Homo sapiens: one gene and its partners. The protein of the gene in region 2 interacts with the protein of the main gene of each other region in a pairwise test. Each region holds a gene or a part of one and is shown on either strand. Other genes may lie near its edges. The genes, in order: PIP4K2B, ZNF131 and MORN4.

Region 1 (7,109 bases), on a different chromosome or scaffold from region 2:
TCTGCCTGCCTCGGCCTCCCAGAGTGCTGGGATTACAGGCGTGAGCCACCACACCTGGCCAGAATTTCTTTCTTTTTAAAGCTGAATAAGGCTGAGCATGGTGGCTAACACCTGTAATCCCAGCAGCTCAGGAGGCTGAGGCAGAAGGACTGCTTGAGGCCAGAAGTTGGAGACCTGGGCAATTTACTGAGATCCTGTCTCTACAAAAAATTAAAAACTAGCTGGGTGTGGTGACATGTGCCTGTAGTCCTAGCTATTCAGGAGGCTGGGTGGGAGGATCCCTTGTGCCTAGGAGTTCACGGTTGTGGTGAGCTATGATCATGCCACTGTGCATCAGCCTGAACTAGAGGGTAAGACCCCATCTCTTTAAAAAACAAAACAAAAGCTAGGCGCGGTGGCTCACGCTTGTAATCCCAGCACTTTGGGAGGCCAAGGCAGGCGGATCACGAGGTCAGGAGATCGAGACCATCCTGGCTAACACGGTGAAACCCCGTCTCTACTAAAAATGCAAAAACAAAATTAGCCAGGTGTGGTGGTGGGCGCCTGTAGTCCCAGCTACTCGGGAGGCTGAGGCAGGAGAATGGCATGAACCCGGGAGACGGAGCTTGCAGGGAGCCGAGATCGTGCCACTGCACTCCAGCCTGGGCGACAGAACGAGACCTCATCTCAAAAACACACACACACACACACACACAAAAACTGATTAATATTCCATTGTATGGATGTATTACATTTTGTTTATTCATCAGTTAATGGACACTTGTTATATCAGTTGGGGTTCTCCAGAGAAACAAAACCTATAGGATGTTTTGTAAATCTCTTTATACCAAGATATTTATTTTTTATTTTATTTATTTATTTTTTTTGAGACAGAGTCTTGCTCTGTCACCCAGGCTGGAGTACAGTGGCGCGATCTTGGCTCACTGCAAGCTCCGCCTCCCGGGTTCACGCCATTCTCCTGCCTCAGCCTCCCGAGTAGCTGGGACTACAGGCGCCCACCACCATGCCCAGCTAGTTTTTTTTGTATTTTTAGTAGAGATGGGGTTTCACCATGTTAGCCAGGATGGTCTTGATCTCCTGACCTCATGATCTGCCTGCCTCGGCCTCCCAAAGTGCTGGGATTACAGGTGTGAGCCACCACGCCCGGCCCTAAGAGATTTATTTTAAGGAATTGTTTCATGGGATTATGGATACCAACGAGATCTGCAGTCAGCAAGCCGGAGGCCCAGGAGAGCTGGTGGTGTGGTTTTATTCTACAGGCCATCAGGCCACCAGGCAGAAGGAGTTCCCTCTTCCTCACCGGAGGGTCACCCTTTTTCTTCTCTTCAGGCCTTCTGCTGATTGGATGATGCCCATCCACACTGGGGAGGGCCATCTGCTTTACTCAGTCCACCAGTTCAATGCTCATTTCACCCAGAAACCCTCACAGACACACCCAGAATAATGCTTGACCAAGTGTCTGGGCACTCAGGCCCAGTCCAGCTGGCATATACAATTAGCCATCACACTTAGGTTGCTTCCACCTTGTAGCTGTTGGGAATAATGCTACTGTGAACATGGGTGTCATAAACTTCGTTTTGCTAGGAAGCGTTTCCTTAGTCACCCCCAACTATGTTCTTTCCTTATTCTGCCTTTCATCATCTGACATTATTTGTCCTGAGTCTTTGTCCTTCTCCCTTTTCTACCCTCTCCCCCTACTGTGGTTCTGAGAAGAATTTAATGCAGTTTACTCAGTGCATTTGTTTTCAATGCATGTTGCTTTATAAATGTTCTCAGGTGGGTGGAGGGCATGGTGCATGGACCTTCTTTTTCCTGGGACCCTAGCCCCTTCTCCCTGGGCCTTGAGAAGGCTTTGTCTGGAAGTGCTCAGAGTGGCATCCCTCCCTCCCTTCCTCTTCCAAGGAGATCCTGCTGGGCTCCCATCTTTAGGGCTCCTTGTCCTTAGTTGTGTTCTGGGCTCGTGCATAGAGCTGCTCTGCTTCCATGATGATTCTCCTCCTAGTTCTCTGTTAGGACCTAACATGGTGGTCAGTCTAACAGTCTCCTAGTGACCACTGTATGATGGTGACTGCACTCTTGCCTCATTATTAGCTAAACTGGAATGCTAGCTGGCCATTTCCATCCTGTATCATTCCATACTTTGTCTTGAAATCCTAGATAAAAGACTTGAACCACCACCCTGCTCACAGCACCCATTATACAGATGAGAAAACTAAGGCTTGGCAAGGGGAGTCACATGATGCTAGGGGAGGACTTTCCCCCAGCACCACACAGCCTCTTTTGACCTTCAGGGAATGGGTTGAGAATATTGGTTGGTTCTGGCTGCCATTCTTGTATGGTTTTGTGTTCCCTTTTCCTTTTTTTTCTATTTTTACCTGGGCTGAAAAGTCGATGACATAGTTTTTTCAGACTTTGTCTCTGAGGCCAGTTAGAAGTATATTTTACCTTGCAACCCAATGGATACACACAACTGAAACACTGTCTACCCTTATTTTCTGTCATGTATTCTGATATTTTCTATTCTATTTTATTATACAGTAGTCCCCCCTTATCAGCAGGGGACATGTTCCAAGATCCCCAGTGGACGCCTGAAGCCACAGATAGTACTGAACCCTGTATATACTATGCGTGAATTTTTTTTCCTTCTTCACAATTTCACGGATAGAAGATTTGTTCTTACAGGAGATCTTAGCAACCTCAGCATGCAATTTATTTTCTTTGTAAGTCAAGAGCTTTCACCTTTTCACTTAAAGCTGGCCAGGTGCAGTGGCTCACACCTGTAATCCCAGCACTTTTGGGAGGCTGAGGCAGGTGGATCACTTGAGGTCAGGAGCTCGAGACCAGCCTGGCCAACATGATGAAACTGTCTCTACTAAAAATACAAAAATTAGCTGAGTGTGGTGGTGCATGCCTGAAGTCCCAGCTACTTGGGAGGCTGAGACAGGAGAATCACTTGAACCTGGGAGGTGGAGGTTGCAGTGAGCCGAGATTGCACCAGTGCACTCTAGCCTGGTGACAGAGCAAGACTCTGTCTCAAAAAAAGAAAGCACTTTATGGCTTCTCTTTGGCATATCTGAATTGCCAACATCACTACTCTTGCTCTGTGGAGTCATAATGAAGTCAAATATGGGTTACTTGAATACAAGCACTGTGATACAACTATAGTGAACTGATAACCAAGACAGCTACGGACAGCTACTGAAAGACTAATGGGACGTTAGTGCATACAGTGTGGATATACTGCACAAAGGGATAATCTGCATCCTGGGCAGCACTGAATGGGACATAGCAAGATTTTATCATGCTACTCGGAATGGTACACTATTTAAAAACTTATGAATTATTTCTGGAATTTTCCATTTAATATTTTTGGACTGTAGTTGACCACAGGTAACTGAAACCATTGTGGATAAGGGTGGACTACTGCATTTAATTTAAAGAAATCCTAGTTCCAGCCCACTACATTGGGTTTAGGACTCATAATGGGTTGAAATTTTGATCTGAAATATATTGTTGTGTCATATCCATCGCTCCATCCTCTTCCATAGTATATCATTTCATTATTTCTTTCCTCAAACTTGGCCATGGCCTCTTTTTTTAAAACAAGAGACAGGGTCTCACTCTGTTCCCCAGGCTTGAGTGCAATAGTGCCGTCATAGCTTACTGCAGCCTCAAATTCCTGGGCTCACGCGATCCTCCCACTTGAGCCTCCCAAGTAGGTAGGACTACAGGTGTGCACTGCCACGCCCAGCCAATTTTTAAATTTTTTTGTAGAGATGGGGTCTCATCACGTTGCTGAGGCTGGTCTCAAACTCCTGGCCTCAAGTGATCCTCCTTAATTGGCCTCCCAAAGTTCTGGGATTACAGGCATGAGCCACCGTGCCCAGCCACCATGGCCTCTCTTGATCCCAAACCGTCATGGGCTGTTCCCTCTTCCTGCAGTGCTCGTTCTATCTTTAACCTGCAGTACTTGCCTCACTGACTCCTCTTCATCCTTGGCCTCAACTCCTTTCTTCAGGGAGGGTCTTGCTCACCCCTCACTGTAAACTCCCACAGCTCCTTGCTTTTTTTTTTTTTTTTTTTTTTTTTGAGACCATCTCCCTCTGTTACCCAGCTAGAGTGCAGTGGTGTGATCACAGCTCACTGCAGCCTCGACCTCCTGCCTTTCCCCTGCTGAATGACTGTCTTCCCCATTAGAGAGAGCTCGCGAGGGCGGGTGCTCTGATGCCTTACTCTCTGTTGAATTTCAAAACTGTTTGTAGAATTGAGTTGAAAGGAATGCCTTTCCCCCCTTTCTGGATGTCACTGGGATGTCCTGTGTAACCTCTTCTTCCTTCCATCTTTCCATCCTTGCCCTTCCTAGTTCTTGGCACAGCTGAAGATCATGGACTACAGCCTGCTGGTGGGCATCCACGACGTGGACCGGGCAGAGCAGGAGGAGATGGAGGTGGAGGAGCGGGCAGAGGACGAGGAGTGTGAGAATGATGGGGTGGGTGGCAACCTACTCTGCTCCTATGGCACACCTCCGGACAGCCCTGGCAACCTCCTCAGCTTTCCTCGGTTCTTTGGTCCTGGGGAATTCGACCCCTCTGTTGACGTCTATGCCATGAAAAGCCATGAAAGTAAGTCAGAGCCTGCGCCTGCTCTGCACAGCCCTGCCCTCATCCTACCCCCTCAGCTCATTGTTTAGATCCTTCTAGGGGCATCTGGACCTCCACCTCATTCATTGCTGCCTTTGACCTCTTTCTGCCTCCAGATTCCCATCCAGGGTCACCACCTGAACCTGGGGCTCCTCCTCTGCCAGGCTTTCCTATACTTCCCTGCTTGTCCTGGCTGACTGAAGAGTGGTTCTGCTCTGGTTCATGAGATGAACCAAACTTTATTCATACTGTCCTGTCAGCCCCACAGAGTGACTGTGAAGATCCAATAAGATAAGAGCTATGACAGCTGGAAAGGACTCCACTGGTCCTTTTCTCAGCCCCAACATGATAAGGATGGAGCTGAGCCTTGTGTCTGGGGGTTGTAGCAGTGCCCAGCTGCTGTCTGCCCTTCTCCTGCCCCCTCTTCCTTCTTCCCTGCTCTCCTTGTCCCTCCAGGTTCCCCCAAGAAGGAGGTGTATTTCATGGCCATCATTGATATCCTCACGCCATACGATACAAAGAAGAAAGCTGCACATGCTGCCAAAACGGTGAAACACGGGGTGAGTCCTCTCCATCTTCATCCAGGGCCCAGCTGGGTCGGTGCATCTGTGCTTACCCTCAGACCCCAGGGAGGGCAGTCTCAGGCCTCCTGCTCCAAGGAACACACTCCTGTCTCCTTCTTCCCAGGAGAGCAGACTGGAAGAGCAGCCTGCCTGCCTTGCCATGTTCCCTGCCTTCACCCACCTGCTCCCTGCCAGGCTGGGCCCAATTTGTTTATCCCCCAGTTCTCCAGCCCTCGGGGCCAAGCCTGCCAGTGTCTTTCCCCAGGGCCTGCTGGGCCTGTTGTGCATCTTGTTGAAGGGCGAGTAATAGCTTTGTTTCCATGCCCATACTGCTCCCCACAGGCCTGTTTCCCTGTGGGCCTGAAGCCCTGTTCTCCATGTAGTGGCCCCCACAGAGATCCAGAGCCGCGTTGCCACCTCCCCACTGCCTTTCTTCTACTTCGGTGCAGGCCTGGGGTTATAAATCACAGGAGTGGGGCCAGGACAGTTCAGGACTTGTATGCCACTTCCTGAGGTGGTCTGCTCAGTCTTGGTGGGGTTGGGGGTGGTATTCAGCTCTGATACTGAGTAAGAGGCTTCTGAATACCCTGGCTCCCCCCATGTGCAGCCTCCTGATTGGGGCACAGGAACTCAACCTGAATCAGCCTCTTGTGTATTACAGGCAGGGGCCGAGATCTCGACTGTGAACCCTGAGCAGTACTCCAAACGCTTCAACGAGTTTATGTCCAACATCCTGACGTAGTTCTCTTCTACCTTCAGCCAGAGCCAGAGAGCTGGATATGGGGTCGGGGATCGGGAGTTAGGGAGAAGGGTGTATTTGGGCTAGATGGGAGGGTGGGAGCAGAGTCGGGTTTGGGAGGGCTTTAGCAATGAGACTGCAGCCTGTGACACCGAAAGAGACTTTAGCTGAAGAGGAGGGGGATGTGCTGTGTGTGCACCTGCTCACAGGATGTAACCCCACCTTCTGCTTACCCTTGATTTTTTCTCCCCATTTGACACCCAGGTTAAAAAGGGGTTCCCTTTTTGGTACCTTGTAACCTTTTAAGATACCTTGGGGCTAGAGATGACTTCGTGGGTTTATTTGGGTTTTGTTTCTGAAATTTCATTGCTCCAGGTTTGCTATTTATAATCATATTTCATCAGCCTACCCACCCTCCCCATCTTTGCTGAGCTCTCAGTTCCCTTCAATTAAAGAGATACCCGGTAGACCCAGCACAAGGGTCCTTCCAGAACCAAGTGCTATGGATGCCAGATTGGAGAGGTCAGACACCTCGCCCTGCTGCATTTGCTCTTGTCTGGATTAACTTTGTAATTTATGGAGTATTGTGCACAACTTCCTCCACCTTTCCCTTGGATTCAAGTGAAAACTGTTGCATTATTCCTCCATCCTGTCTGGAATACACCAGGTCAACACCAGAGATCTCAGATCAGAATCAGAGATCTCAGAGGGGAATAAGTTCATCCTCATGGGATGGTGAGGGGCAGGAAAGCGGCTGGGCTCTTGGACACCTGGTTCTCAGAGAACCCTGTGATGATCACCCAAGCCCCAGGCTGTCTTAGCCCCTGGAGTTCAGAAGTCCTCTCTGTAAAGCCTGCCTCCCACTAGGTCAAGAGGAACTAGAGTACCTTTGGATTTATCAGGACCCTCATGTTTAAATGGTTATTTCCCTTTGGGAAAACTTCAGAAACTGATGTATCAAATGAGGCCCTGTGCCCTCGATCTATTTCCTTCTTCCTTCTGACCTCCTCCCAGGCACTCTTACTTCTAGCCGAACTCTTAGCTCTGGGCAGATCTCCAAGCGCCTGGAGTGCTTTTTAGCAGAGACACCTCGTTAAGCTCCGGGATGACCTTGTAGGAGATCTGTCTCCCTGTGCCTGGAGAGTTACAGCCAGCAAGGTGCCCCCA
Region 2 (7,109 bases):
CTACTCAGGAGGCTGAGGCAGGAGAATCACCTGAACCCGGGAGATGGAGGTTGCAGTGAGCTGAGATCATGCCACTGCACTCCAGCCTGGGTGGCAGAGTGAGACTCCATCTCAAAAAACAAACAAAAGAGCCGGGCGTGGTGGCTCATGCCTGTAATCCCAGCACTCTGGGAGGCCGAGGCAGGTGGATCATCTGAGATCGGGAGTTCGAGATCAGCCTGACCAACATGGAGAAACCCCATCTCTACTAAAAATACAAAAAATGAGTTGGGCATGGTGGTGCATGCCTGTAATCCCAGCTACTCGAGAGGCTGAGGCAAGAGAATCGCTTGAACCCGGGAGGCGGAGGTTGCGGTGAGCCGAGATCACACCATTGCACTCCAGCCTGGGCAACAAGAGCAAAACGCTGTCTCAAAAAAAAATTAAAATTAAAATTAAAAAATGTGGTAAAAGAATCGAAACATCAACCACTTCAAAACTTTTCTCATTTAACAACCAGCACTATTAACACTCAGGAAAATTAATTTTGAAGTTAGGAGAAGAAAGTTATCAAAGAAAAAATATCATTTTGAATCTGCTCTTACTTTTATATTACTCATTTCACAAAATGTATACATTATTTCTTTCTCTCCCTCACCACCATACTGAATCAATGCCAGAACTTTTTGATTCTGTCTTATTATCTCTCAGCTACATTGCCTCTACTTTCCTCTTTTTTTTTTTTTTTTTTGGAGACAGAGTCTTACTCTATCGCTCAGGCTGGAGTGCAGTGGCCTGATCTCAGCTCACTGCAATCTCCACCTCTCAGGTTCAAGCAATCCTCCTGCCTCAGCCTCCCCAGTAGCTGGGACTACAGGCACGCGCTGCCATGTCCGGCTAATTTTTGTATTTTCAGTAGAGACGGTTTCACCGTGTTGCCCAGGCTGGTCTCGAACTCCTGAGCTCAGGCAATCTGCCCACCTCGGCCTCCCAAAGTGCTGGGATTACAGGCATGAGCCACCGCGCCTGGCCTCCCATTTCTCTTAAAACCAGAAGTTTCGGCTGGGTGTGGTGGCTCATGCCTCTAATCCCAGCACTTTGGGAGGCCGAGGCAGGCAGATCACGAGGTCAGGAGTTTGAGGCCAGCTTGACCAACATGGTGAAACCCCGCCGTCTCTACTAAAAATACAAAAAGTAGCCGGGCGTGGTGGCACGCACCTGTAATCCCAGCCACTGGGGAGGCTGAGGCAGGAGAACTGCTTGAACCCAGGAGGCAGAGGCTGTAGTGAGCCGAGATTGTGCCACTGCATTCCAGCCTGGGTGACAGAGCAAGACTCCATCTCAAACAAACAAACAAAAAACACAGAAGTTTCTCCATAAATCTGGCAGCAAAATTTGATCTCAGCTAACATGGGGCTATGTCATCTTTATCCCACTTAAGAGTGAATACTAACATGCTATGCTGCTAAACTATTAGTATTTGTGAGTATTATGTTTTTCATTACCCTTAGAAAAATTCTAAAATCTGGAATGTTGAGAAGTATGTCTGGCCTCCGAGAAGATTTGAATAAGGAATTGTGGACCTAGCTCCCTGTCCTGACTGATGAGAATCACCTATAGACTAAATAAAGTACTGGTACCAAGGGCTGGGTGTGGTGGCTCATGCCTGTAATCCTAGCACTATGGGAGGCCAAGGCAGGAGCATTGCTTAAGGCTGGTAGTTCAAGACCAGCATGGGCAAAGTAGTGAGATCTCTTCTCTACAAAAAATACAAAAACTAGGCTGGGCATGGTGGCTCATGCCTGCAATACCAGCACTTTGGGAGGCTGAAGCACGCAGATCACTTTAGGTCAGGAGTTTGAGACCAGCCTGGCCAACATGGTGAAACCCTATCTCTACTAAAAATACAAAAAATATTAGCTGGGCATGGTGGTGGGAGCCTTAATTCCAGCTACTTGTGAGGCTGAGGCATGAAAATTGCTTGAACCCGGGAGGCGGAGACTGCAGTAAGCCAAGATCACACCACACTGCACCCCAACCTGGGCAACAGAGTGAGACTCCGTCTCAAAAATAGTAATAATAATAAATAATAAATAAAAATACAAAGACTAGCTGGCCTTGGTGGTATGTGCTTGTAGTTAGAAGGCTGAGGTGAGAGGACTGCTTGAACTCAGGAGGTCAAGGTTGCAATGAGCCATGATGGTACACTGCACTCCAGCCTGGGTGACAGAGCAAGACCCTGTCTCCAAAAAGAAAGTACTGGTACCTGATCTTTGGAATCAAAACTGGGATAAATATCTGGGTTTTTGTTTTTTTTATTATGAGCACCCCAGGTGTGTTTTTTTTTTTTTTTTTTTTTGAGATGGAGTCTCGCTCTGTCGCCCAGGCTGGAGTGCAGTGGCGCCATCTCAGCTCACTGCAAGCTCCGCCTCCCAGGTTCACACCATTCTCCTGCCTCAGCCTCCCAAGTAGCTGGGACTACAGGTGCCCACCACCATGCCCAGCTAATTTTTTTTGTATTTTTAGTAGAGACGGGGTTTCACTCTGTCAGCCAGGATGATCTCGATCTCCTGACCTCATGATCCGCCCGCTCGGCCTCCCAAAGTGCTGGGATTACAGGCGTGAGCCACCATGCCCAGCTCCCAGGTGCTTCTAACTTATATGACCAGCCCAACACTGTCCTAGGAACAAACCAGTGACCTAATTAGCTAACATGAACCAAACTGATAATACTTGCCCAGCTAAATGAAGTGATGGTGGATATGTAATAATTATACATCTATCAAGACTAGTTTGGTAACTTAACAAATCTCAGCAATCCCTTACTCCCTTCATAACAGAAGTGCGCAGAATACAACTTTTCTAAGAGAGTATCTAAGGAAAATGTTAAAGTGAACAACTGAATCTAAGTCTTCTCCCTGACAGAAATGCTTAGAAAGGAGTAAAAGGGAGCAGCATTGTGGCATTACTCTAGACTCAGGGAATCCCTGCAACTGGTGGAAAACTCCTACTCAAAAAGATGTATAAACATGTACAAGGATGTTTTGTTCTTGATAGTAGGGGCTAAAATTTCTGGACACCATGGTAGAGCTGCTGTTACAGAGAAACTAAGTGCCATGGATCTGTGGTTTCAGGTGAAGTAGAAAAAGAATGAATTTAGAAAATTGGAGGTTCACGTTAGAAGGTTGTGTGTTCTGAACAAAGGAATGAATGTCTGTTGAAGATTTTATATGGTGTGAATCCAAGCCACAAAGCTGAGCTGGGATCCAATTAGCTTCAATAGCAACAAATCTGATTTGAAGTCAAAGATGAACCTGTGGTTTTCATCAAAGGTAACTTACTTTAACCAGGAACACAGAAAACATGGAGGGTGAGCTCAGCTTGCACCTAATGAGTTTATACTCAGAGAATATTACAATCTAAATTTATATACACGTCATTTGCTTTTACGCAATCCTCTAAGACAGTGGTCCTCAACATTGACTGCACACTAGAATCATGCTAGGGCAGTGCTGCTCAAATTTTACTGTGCGTAGGCACCATCTGGGGATCTTGTTCCAATTCAGCAGGTCTGGAATGGAACCTGAGTCTACATTTCTAACAAGTTTCCAAATGATCCCCATGTAGTGGTCCTCAGACCACAACCTACATAGTATATCAAGAACCTAGAGAACTTTTAAATATAGTTTTCTGGATCCTACTCCTGAAAGATTTTTAATTATCTGGAGATACAACCTGGGCATTTATATTTGTAATCGCTTCCCTGGTGTCTCTAATGCCCACCTAATGTGCCATGCTAAGTCATTATTTATATTTTACGAGTGGGGGACGGGGTCCCAGTTCTAGCTAAGATGGAGAAAGCACACTCCACCCTATCTTGTCCATTGATTATTACTAAAAATCCTGGAAAGAATACATAAAGCAAATATACAAGGACTCTGAAAAGTAATTTGAAGCAAGCAGACTGGCGAGAGAAATCAAAACTCAAAACAGTAGTGAGTTTCCTGGTTTTTTTCTCCCACATATGTCAGCTTAGACTTGAGGACAGCCCAAATCTCATTAACTGTGCAGTGAGTGAAGACAGAGAAAAGTTCCAAGAGAAACTCCTTCTGGCTAGAGAACTAGAAAAGATGATGAATGGGAGAGGGACAATGGGGAGGGGTGGATATCTGGTAATTTTTCTTCTCTCTCAGCTCTGCCTCAAAGCAAGCCCCAATCCTGAGTCTGCACACCTGTGGCTGGTAGCTGTCTCCTAAACTCTAAAAGAGAGTTCTTCTGACAAAAGAACTAGGAAAAAGACGATGATCGGAAGAGTATGGAAGAGGGAATTCATTTTATTTTTTTCTCTAACTTTTCTCTCTCTCCATTTTGTTCAGGAAATGAGCCCCTCTACAGAAAACGTATGAAAAGCACAAAGAAGCTAAAATTCCAGTTTTCTCACCAAAGAACCACGAAAAGAAACTCTTGGGAGCTTGTGTACAAGGGAAGTCACGGAGAGAAGAAACGTCCTCTAAATTTGTGTATACAATCTCAAGTTTACCACCAACATGCCCATGTGTGAACTGACCCAAGGCGGCAGAGGAAAGGCGCTGAGAACTGCACAATGGCATGGATGGCACACCTGGGACCTGAACAGCAATACGAAGGTTTTGAAAAGTAAGTTCAAACTGGATCCACAGCCCACAGAGGCAGTCTGAACCTAACCAGGTTAACTGCCCGCTAAAGTGAAACCAAAAAACCAAAAATATTTTCCAGAGGATTTTAACAGCATCCAGTTTTGTAACAAAATATTCAAATGTCCATGACATACTCCAAAATTATGTGACATGAAAAATAAGGAAGCCAAGATATCTAAGGTCACACAGCACACAAACAGTTAAAGCCAGGGCTAAAACTCAAGTTTTCTAACTAACTATATGCCCAGGGCTTTCTCCACAGCCAGGTGACCTTGCTAGACAGTACTGTAACCCCAAAGTTAAGGGCTTAAGATACTGAACCAAATTAATTATTTAAACCTGAATCTGACCAAATGACAGAAATAAAGTGTGTGTCTATTTTGCTTTCTTATCTATCTAGAATTCAAATACTGAAGACTTGTGTGTGCCACAGACCTAAATCTCAAGGTGACTAGTCTTCAGAAGACCAGGCTCTACTTCTACTTCTCCAGGTAATGTGTGCTCATTCTACCAGCAACAAATATTCCAGCTTGGGCCACTTTTCCTTTTTTTTTTCTTTGAGACGGAGTTTCACTCTTGTTGCCCAGGCTGGAGTGCAATGGCGTGACTCAGCTCGCTACAACCTCCGCCTCCCGGGTTCAAGCGATTCTCCTGCCTCGGCCTTCCTGAGTAGCTGGGATTACAGGTGCCCACCACCACGCCCGGCTAATTTTATATTTTTAGTAGAGACAGGGTTTCACCATGTTGGTCAGGCTGGTCTCGACCTCTCGACCTCAGGTGATCTGCCTGCCTCGGCCTCCCAAAGTGCTGGGATTACAGGCGTGAGCCACCGCATCCGGCCAGGCCACTTATTTTTTAAGACTTAAAAATTCTGCTCAGACTTGGCCAGTCGTGGTCTCACGCCTGTAATCCCAGCACTTTGGGAGGAAGAGGCGGGTGGATCACCTGAGGTGGGGAATTCGAGACCAGCCTGATCACGCCATTGCACTCCAGCCTGGGTAACAAGAGCTAAAATCTATCTCCAAAAAAAAGAAAAAAAAAATTCTGCTCAGACTCAAAACTCCTCTTTGAAATCTTTCCTAAGGAAGACCAAACCACTCATTCTCCCTCTTCAGTGATACCATTTCACAGTAATAGTCTTTGTAATACTTTTTGCACTCCTTTATTTGCCTGTTGCTCACCTGTTATGAAATTTTCCGACTTCTTTAAGGGACATCTTATTCATTAATTCTTCATCTCCTGGGTCTAACATAGTACATGATATATTATAGATATTCAATATGATAAACTGACTTTTTTTTTTTTTTTTTGAGACAGGGCCTTGCTCTGTCGCCCAGGCTACAATGCAGTGGCAAAATCATGGCTCACTGCAGCTTTGACCTCCTGGGCCCCAGCAATCCTCCCGCCTCAGCCTCCTGAATAGCTGGGACCACAGGCATGTGCCATCAGACTCAGCTAATAATTTTTTAAATTTTTTGTAGAGAAGAGGTCTCCCTAATGTTTCTTAGACTGGACCCTGTTTATCAAGCTTTGACAAGGCACCAAATATCATGCCATGCACTCTGCATGTTATCGCAATTAGTCTTTATAATCCTATGAACCCACTTTTCAGATGAGGAGAAAAGTATGCAATTGAGGTAAAGTAACCCGCCTGGGGTCACATATTTAATAAACCTCAGGTGTGAATGAATTCATGGAGGCTTGCTTTGTAGTAGAAACCACTATCATCTGGGCAGTTAGATTCTCACTTTATTAAGTTTTGTGGATTTTCATAATTATGTCTCTGTCCTGATTATAGATATTAAAAGATACTCTAGCTGTAAATATATCAGCTATAATGCTAAACTGGAATATACCAAAATTAAAGAATATTCTTAACTCTTTTTTGTTTTCTTTACTCCCCTAGGCATCAAAGGGAAAAAAGGAGTTTCTAGGCAACCCATTCAGAACAAAGAATACGTACACAATGAAATAGATATAAAACCAAAACCCAAGAACCCTAAAAGAAGCTAAAATTCTGTAATTACGTAGGCAAACATTTATTTCCTGCTGTTTTAGATTTTGATGCTGGTGGTAGGGGAGGAGTTACTGCAGTAGCAGAAGAAAAAGCATGGTAATTAATAGCACAAACTTAATTCCTTGCTAGTTGGACAACCCTGGGCAAGTAACCTTTTAGAGCCTGCTTCCTGAAGTGTAAATTATTACAAATAACACCACTTCCCTTTTTGAAAAGAAAAGAAAAGAAAAGAAAAGACAGGGTCTATGTTGCCCCAGGCTGGCCTCGAACTCCTGGGCTCAAGCAATCCTCCTGCCTCAGCCTCCCGAGTAGCTGGGACTACAAGCACAAGCCATCCTGCCCAACATCAAACGATTGCTGTGAGCCTTAGACAATACACAAAACTACATATCACAACGCCTGGCACTTGGCAGGTTATTATTAGAAAAATGTCTAGA
Region 3 (7,109 bases), on a different chromosome or scaffold from region 2:
GGAATTTGCTATATGTGCCTAAGTCAAAATGGAATGGAAGTTTGTAGTATGTACTGTTGAAAACCAATGGGAGAGGATGGTGGGAGGGTTAGGTTGAAACATGGTATTCCAGTTATTATTGCTGTATAACAAAGTACCCCAGAATTTAGCAGCTTAAAACACCCATACTGTGGCCAGGCGCGGTGGCTCATGCCTGTAATCCCAGCACTTTGGGAGGTTGAGGAGGGCGGATCATGAGATCAGGAGATCAAGACCATCCTGGCTAACACAGTGAAACCTCATCTCTACTAAAAATACAAAAAATTAGCCGGGGCCGGGCACAGTGGCTCATGCCTGTAATCCCAGCACTTCGGGAGGCTGAGGCAGGCGGATCACAAGGTCAGGAGATCGAGACCATCCTGGCTAACATGGTGAAACCCCGTCTCCACTAAAAATACAAAAAAAAATTAGCTGGGCATGGTGGCGGGCGCCTGTAGTCCCAGCTACTGGGGAGGCTGAGGCAGGAGAATGGCGAGAACCTGGGAGGCAGAGCTTGCAGTAAGCTGAGATCGTGCCACTGAACTCCAGCCTGGGAGACAGCAAGACTCCGTCTCAAAAAAAAAAAAAAAAAAATTAGCTGGGCGTGGTGGCGAGCACCTGTAGTCCCAGCTACTCAGGAAGCTAAGGCAGGAGAATTGCTTGAACCCGGGAGGCGGAGCTTGCAGTGAGCCGAGATCACACCACTGTACTCCACCCAGCGTGACAAAGCGAGACTCTGTCTCAAAAAACAAAACAAACAAACAAAAAAAAAACACCCATATGATGCTCATGGATTCTGTGGGTGAGGGAATTTGGACCTGGCACCATGGGGAGGCCTCTCTCTGCTCCCTGATATGGGATGGAATGCAGGCTCAATGGCTGAGGGCTGGAATCATCTGAAGGCTCCTTCACTGATGCCTGGTACGTGGGATAGGATGATTCAAAGGTAAGGGCAGCCAACTGGAACACCAATATATGGCTTTTCTGTGTGGCTTGGCTTTCAGTGTTAGCCTCTGTGTAGTCAGGCTTTTTATGTGGTGGCTCGGGTCTCCAAGTGTGAGTGTATCAGTGACAAGATGGAAGTTGCATCACCTTTTATGATCTAACCTCAGAACACACCACCATTTTCTTTTGAGACAGAGTTTCACTCTTGTTGCCCAGGCTGGAGTGCAATGGCGCGATCTTGGCTCACTTCAACCTCCGCCTCCTGGGTTAAGCAATTCTCCTGCCTCAGCCTCCCAAGTAGCTGGGATTACAGGCATGGGCCACCACACCCAGCTAATTTTGTATTTTTAGTAGAGATGGGGTTTCTCCATGTTGGTCAGGCTGGTCTTGAACTTCCGACCTCAGGTGATCCGTCCGCCTCGGCCTCCCAAAATGCTAGGATTACAGGCATGAGCCACCACGCCCGGCCCACACCATCATTTTCATTGTGTTCTTTTGGTCCAAGCAGTCACAAGCCTACTCAGATTCAAGGGAGGGGAGGTAGATTTCACCTTTTAATGGATCAATGGCCAGATCAAATTGTAGACAAACATGTAAGACAGAAGATACTGTTGCAAACATCTTGGAAATACAGTCCGCCACATTTGGTAATAAGAAGGTAACCTTTTCAGTTTCATTGGCTTCCTTAAAATATTTAGGGTATAATCCCCAAGAGCTAACAGCATACTAAAAAAGTGGTTAGGGGCTGGGCGTGGTGGCTCATGCCTATAATCCCAGCACTTTGGGAGTCCAAGGCAGGCAGATCACATGAGGCCAGAAGTTTGAGACCAGCCTGGCCAACATAGTGAAACCCCATCTCTACTAAAAATATGAAAATTAGCTGGCCGTGCTGGCACGCCTGTAATCCCAGCTACTCAGGAGGCTGAGGCACGAGAATCTCTTGAGCCTGGGAGGCGGAGGTTGCAGTGAGCCAAGATCATGCCATTAGACTTCAGCCTGTGTGACACAGTGAGACTGTGTCTCAAAAAAAAAAAAAGAAAGAAAAAAAGTGGTTAGGTGTACCACTTGAAAACTAGTACTTTGTCCGTAAATAACCCTCAAACTGGAGAAATGTTCCCTTCTTTCAGCAATCTTATACTGTTCCTTCTGGAACAAGGTAGAATGCCACTCTTTGGAAGTTTCACGTAGCCTTGAGAAAAAGTAAATAAATACAAGGCAGTACTTTCCCTGAGTCCCTGTGTAGTCAATATGACTCCTCAAATCCCACTGCAATAACTCCTTCCAAATTTTGAGTGAAAACAAGTTGGTTAACTGCTGCCAGACATCTAAAGGAAATGCTCTTATAATCTTTTTGTATAAATAGTGATTTTGTGTTTAGGTTTTGGAATGGTTGTTTAATTATAAGATTTAGTGGAAGATACAGCCCTTCAGATTCTAACTGATGTGTTTTGAAGGAATGAAACTTCAACCATAAGCTGACTTTTAGTGCTGTAACTTAGTTCTGGGAAGAGCTGAGGATTGCCTGATCAAAATGCCCGTCTGTACTGGAAAGCGTTTTCTTCTGCTATTCTGATGGAAAACTACTTCTCATGCTCTCATTAATGTTATATTTGCAATGGAGTCATGTTGGCCTCTACCCCAGCACACTCTGATGCTGGGCTGGTGATAAGAGGCTTGTGAGCCTGAAATTGGATGCTGACCTTGTGGGACATTGATAGGACAGAGATGACATGGCAAGTACCAGCATCACGTCTCAGAAAATAGCTCCCAGAGGTTTGGAGGGAGTTTACTACAAGAAGATAATGGTCCTTGCCTCGGATATCTTCTGTGTGAGAGATACTGGAAATGGAATGCTTGACTGATAACTGAAGAAGGGAGAAAGTCCTATGGGAGTGGCCCCCAAATATCTCTAGAAGAGTCTCCACAAGGTTGCCCTTCATTTAGGCGAGAAATGAATCTTTTCTCTTATTTGGGTGAGAGCACAGGGATTCTTATAACTCGTCTGTCCTCATGGCTGGGACAGAGCCAGGGCGTAGAAGATGTCATTGAACCCTGCTCTGGTCAGGCCTAGCTGTTTTCACATTAGACCATTTCTGGGCTTTTGGTGTCTGTATCAAAAATCATTATGTTCTGGCTGGGCGCGGTAGCTCACGCCTGTAATCTAGCACTTTGGGAGGCCGAGGTGGGCAGATCACATGAGGCCAGGAGTTCAAGACCAGCCTGGCCAACATGGTGAAACCCTGTCTCTGCTAAAAATACAAAAAGTAGCTAGGCGTGGTGGCACACACCTGTAATGCCAGCTACTCAGGAGGCTGAAGCACGAGAATTGCTTGAACCCAGGAGACGAAGGTTGCAGTGAGCTGAGATCGAGCCACTGCACTTCCACCTGGGTGACAGAGTGAGAGTGTCTCAAAAAACAAAAAACAAAAAAAAAAAGGTGTTCAGGTCCCTCTGCTGAAGCTACTCAGCAAAGTCACCAGCACCAGTCTCCATTAAACAAACAAACAAACAAAAATCAGGCCGGGCACAGTGACTCATGCCTGTAATCCCAGCACTTTGGGAGGCCAAGGCGGGAGGATCACCTGAGGTCAGGAGTTCAAGACCAGCCTGGCCAACATGGTAAAACCCTGTCTCTACTGAAAATACAAAATTAGCTGGGCGTGGTGGCAGGGGCCTGTAATCCCAGCTACTTGGGAGGCTGGGGCAAGAGAATCGCTTGAACCTGGGAGGCAGAGGTTACAGTGAGCTGAGACTGCACCATTGCACTCCAGCCTGGGCCACAGGAATGAAACTCTGTCTAAAAAAAAAAAAAAAAAAAAATCTGGGCACAGTGGCTCATGCCTGTAATCCCAGCACTTTGGAAGGCTGAGATGGGTGGCTCACCTGAGGTCAGGAGTTCGAGACCAGCCTGACCAACATGGTGAAGCCCTGTCTCTACTAAAAATACAAAAATTAGCCAGCCATGGTGACGGTCACCTGAAATCCCAGCTATTCGAGAGGCTGAGGCAGGAGAATTACTTGAACTCGGGAGGTGGAGGTTGCAGTGAGCCGACATTGCACCACTGCACTCCAGTCTGGGCCACAGAGCAAGACTCCGTTTCAAGAAAAAAAAAAAAAGAGAGAGAACAAGCATCAGAACATATTATGATTATGATTATGATTATGATTATGATTATGATTATTATTATTATTATTTTTGAGTCAGAGTCTCGCTCTGTCACCCAGGCTGGAGACCAGTGGCATGATCTTGGCTCACTGCAACCTCCACCTCCCAGATTCAAGTGATTCTCCTGTCTCAGCCTCTCAAGTAGCTGGGACTACAGGCATGTGCCACCACGCCTGGCTAATTTTTGTGTTTTTAGTAAAGACAGGGCTTCACCATGTTGGCCAGGCTGGTCTCGAACTCCTGACCTCAGGTGATCCATCTTAGCCTCCCAAAGTGCTGGGATTACAGGCGTGAGCCACTGTGCCCAGCCCGCTTGTTCTCTTTAAAAAAAAAAAAAAAAAAGGCATGAGGCTGGGTGTGGTGGCTCATGCTTATAATCCTAGCACTTTCGGAGGCCAAGGCCAGAGATTGCTTGAGGCTAGGAGTTTGAGATTAGCCTGGGCAACATAGTGGGACACGGTCTCTACAAAAAAGTTAGTTGGGCATGGTGGTGTGTGCCTATAGTCCTAGCTACTTGGGAGGCTGGGGCAGAAGGGTTGCTTGAGCCCACAAGTTCAGGGTTGCAGTGAGTTATGATCAAGCGATTGCACACCAGCATGGGCAACAGAGCGACACACTGTCTCCTTAAAAAACAAAAAATCGTTATGACATGAGGCCAAAATAAAAATATCCTGTAGGATGTTGATAAAGAGTGGATGGGTGGCAACTATAGTTTGTTTTTCCTCTACTTAGTATTCAGCTCTTTAGTCAAAATTGCTGAGATTTTCTTTTTCAAAGTGTTGTTTGAATTACATTGGTAGCAGTTTTTACTGAGGAAAGACCTAGAGAAGTTTTCATTACAGTAAGTATATGTGTGAGTTTAAGTGTAAAACTTTGAAAGAGGAAAGAAACTAACATTTAGTGGACAGGCCCTAGCAGTGTTCTAGGTACTTACGTGTGTGTCATTTTCTTTCTTTTATTTTTCTTTTCTGTCACCCACTGACTCTCAGATATTTAATTTAATCCACCTGCCAACTATGTGAAATACATATCTTATCTCCACTTTACAGATGAGGAGACTGAGATTTAGAGATACTTAAATACCTTGCCCATAATTATACAGTGAACTCATATTTGAACTCAAGTCCTCCTGTGCTCAGAGTCTACAACACCACCATATTATCCTGGGAGGCCAGATAGGATAGTATGGTATAAGTTAGCAAGTTACTGTAAGAACTTGTGCCAGCAAGGCCAGCTGTCAGAGCTCTGATTCTAACTTTCACGTGTTAGTTTCCACATGTATGACCTTAGTTAATTTACTTATCCTCTCTGCACCTTAGTTTCCTCATCCCTAAAGTGGAAATAATAATAATACCCACCCCAAAAAGTTGTTGTGAGATGAAATTAGATAATATATTTTAAAAACACTGATGCTCATGCCGTGTGCGGTGACTCACGCCTGTATTCTTAGCACTTTGGGAGGCCGCGGCAGGTGGATCACCTGAGGTCAGGATCACCTGAGGTCACCTGACCAACATGGTGAAACCCCATCTCTACTGAAAATACAAAATTAGCCAGGCGTGGTGGCGCATGCCTGTAATCCCAGCTACTTGGGAGGCTGAGGCGGAGGTTGGAGTGAGCAAAGATCGCGCCATTGCACTCCAGCCTGGGGAAGAATAACAGTGAAACTCCGTCTCAAAAACAAAACAAAACAAAAAACACTGATGCTCACACCAGTAATCCCAGCTACTTGGGAAGCTGATGAGGAAGAATCACTTGAGGCCAGGAGTTCGGGACCAGTCTAGGCACCATAGCGATACCCATCTCAACAAAAAATTTGAAAAGTAGCTGGGTGTGTTGGCACACACCTCTAGTCCCAGCTACTGGAGAGGATGAAGCGGGAGGATCACTTTAGCCCAGAAGTTTGAGACTGCAGTGAGCTCTAATCACAATCACACTACTGCATTCCAGGCTGGGTAACTGAGTGAGACCCCATCTCTTAAAACAAAACAAATAAACAACACTGATGGAACACAGTAAGAGGTCAGTAAATGTTAGCTTCTGTTATAAAGGTATTTCAGACAGCTTCTCTGGGGTTAGTGCAATTGATTATTAGAGAGGGTTGTGCCACCTGAATTGAAATATAAATAATCTAGCACTGTCCACCATGACAATGTGGAGAAAGCAAATTTAACATATGGGTTGTTTTAGTTGAACATTTAAAGCATCACTTTTGCATAAAATATACCAGACCCCTTTTGTGCTATGAAACTATGGAACCCACTCTTTGGAACTCCATCTTGACTGGATGAGGTTTTGGCTTCCCTGGGACTTGAAGGAAAAGGAAGCTAGCTGTTGGCGCCAGGCCCCCGAGATTTAAGAATCCCATCTTGCGGCCAGGCACGGTGGCTCATGCCTGTAATCCCAGCACTTTGGGAGGCCAAGGCGGGCGGATCACGAGGTCAGGAGATTGAGACCATCCTGGCTAACACGGTGAAACTCCATCTCTACTAAAAAATACAAAAAGTTAGTGGGGCGTCGTGGTGGGCACCTGTAGTCCCAGCTACTCGGGAGGCTGAGGCAGGAGAATGGCATGAACCCGGGAGGCAGAGCTTGCAGTCAGCCGAGATCATGCCACTGCACTCCAGCCTGGGCAACAGAGTGAGACTCTGTCTCAAAAAAAGAAAAAAAAAAAAAAAGAATCCCGTCTTGTTTTGAGCTGGGAGCAGTGGCATGCACCTGTAGTTCCAGCTACTCAGAAGTCTAAGAGGGGATTGGAGGATCTCTTGAACCTAGGAGTTCAAGTCCAGCCTGGGTAACATAATGAGACCCTGTCTCTAAAAGAAAAAAGAATTCTTTCCTGTTTCTCCACCAGGTCTGGCCCCAGTACTCTGAGGAGAATGTGTCCTTGTCCTGTTGGAACTCAGTCAGATGCCTGAGGGTCAGACTCTAGGTTACTTATTAATCAGAGGGGACTTTTTTTTTGGAGGGGGACAGGGTC

The links.
Region 1: the proteins of ZNF131 (region 2) and PIP4K2B interact in binary tests that used the Homo sapiens proteins (3 or more experiments, as listed by UniProt).
Region 3: the proteins of ZNF131 (region 2) and MORN4 interact in binary tests that used the Homo sapiens proteins (3 or more experiments, as listed by UniProt).

The regions. Positions count from the first base shown.
Region 1 is NC_000017.11:38,768,527-38,775,635, reverse strand, and holds part of PIP4K2B (phosphatidylinositol 5-phosphate 4-kinase type-2 beta), read left to right. Parts: intron 1-4,363; coding exon 4,364-4,622; intron 4,623-5,096; coding exon 5,097-5,200; intron 5,201-5,864; coding exon 5,865-5,945; 3' UTR 5,946-7,109. UniProt on the Homo sapiens protein: Participates in the biosynthesis of phosphatidylinositol 4,5-bisphosphate. Preferentially utilizes GTP, rather than ATP, for PI(5)P phosphorylation and its activity reflects changes in direct proportion to the physiological GTP concentration.
Region 2 is NC_000005.10:43,123,886-43,130,994, reverse strand, and holds part of ZNF131 (zinc finger protein 131), read right to left. Parts: intron 1-7,109. UniProt on the Homo sapiens protein: Plays a role during development and organogenesis as well as in the function of the adult central nervous system. May be involved in transcriptional regulation as a repressor of ESR1/ER-alpha signaling.
Region 3 is NC_000010.11:97,623,429-97,630,537, reverse strand, and holds part of MORN4 (MORN repeat-containing protein 4), read left to right. Parts: intron 1-7,109. UniProt on the Homo sapiens protein: Plays a role in promoting axonal degeneration following neuronal injury by toxic insult or trauma.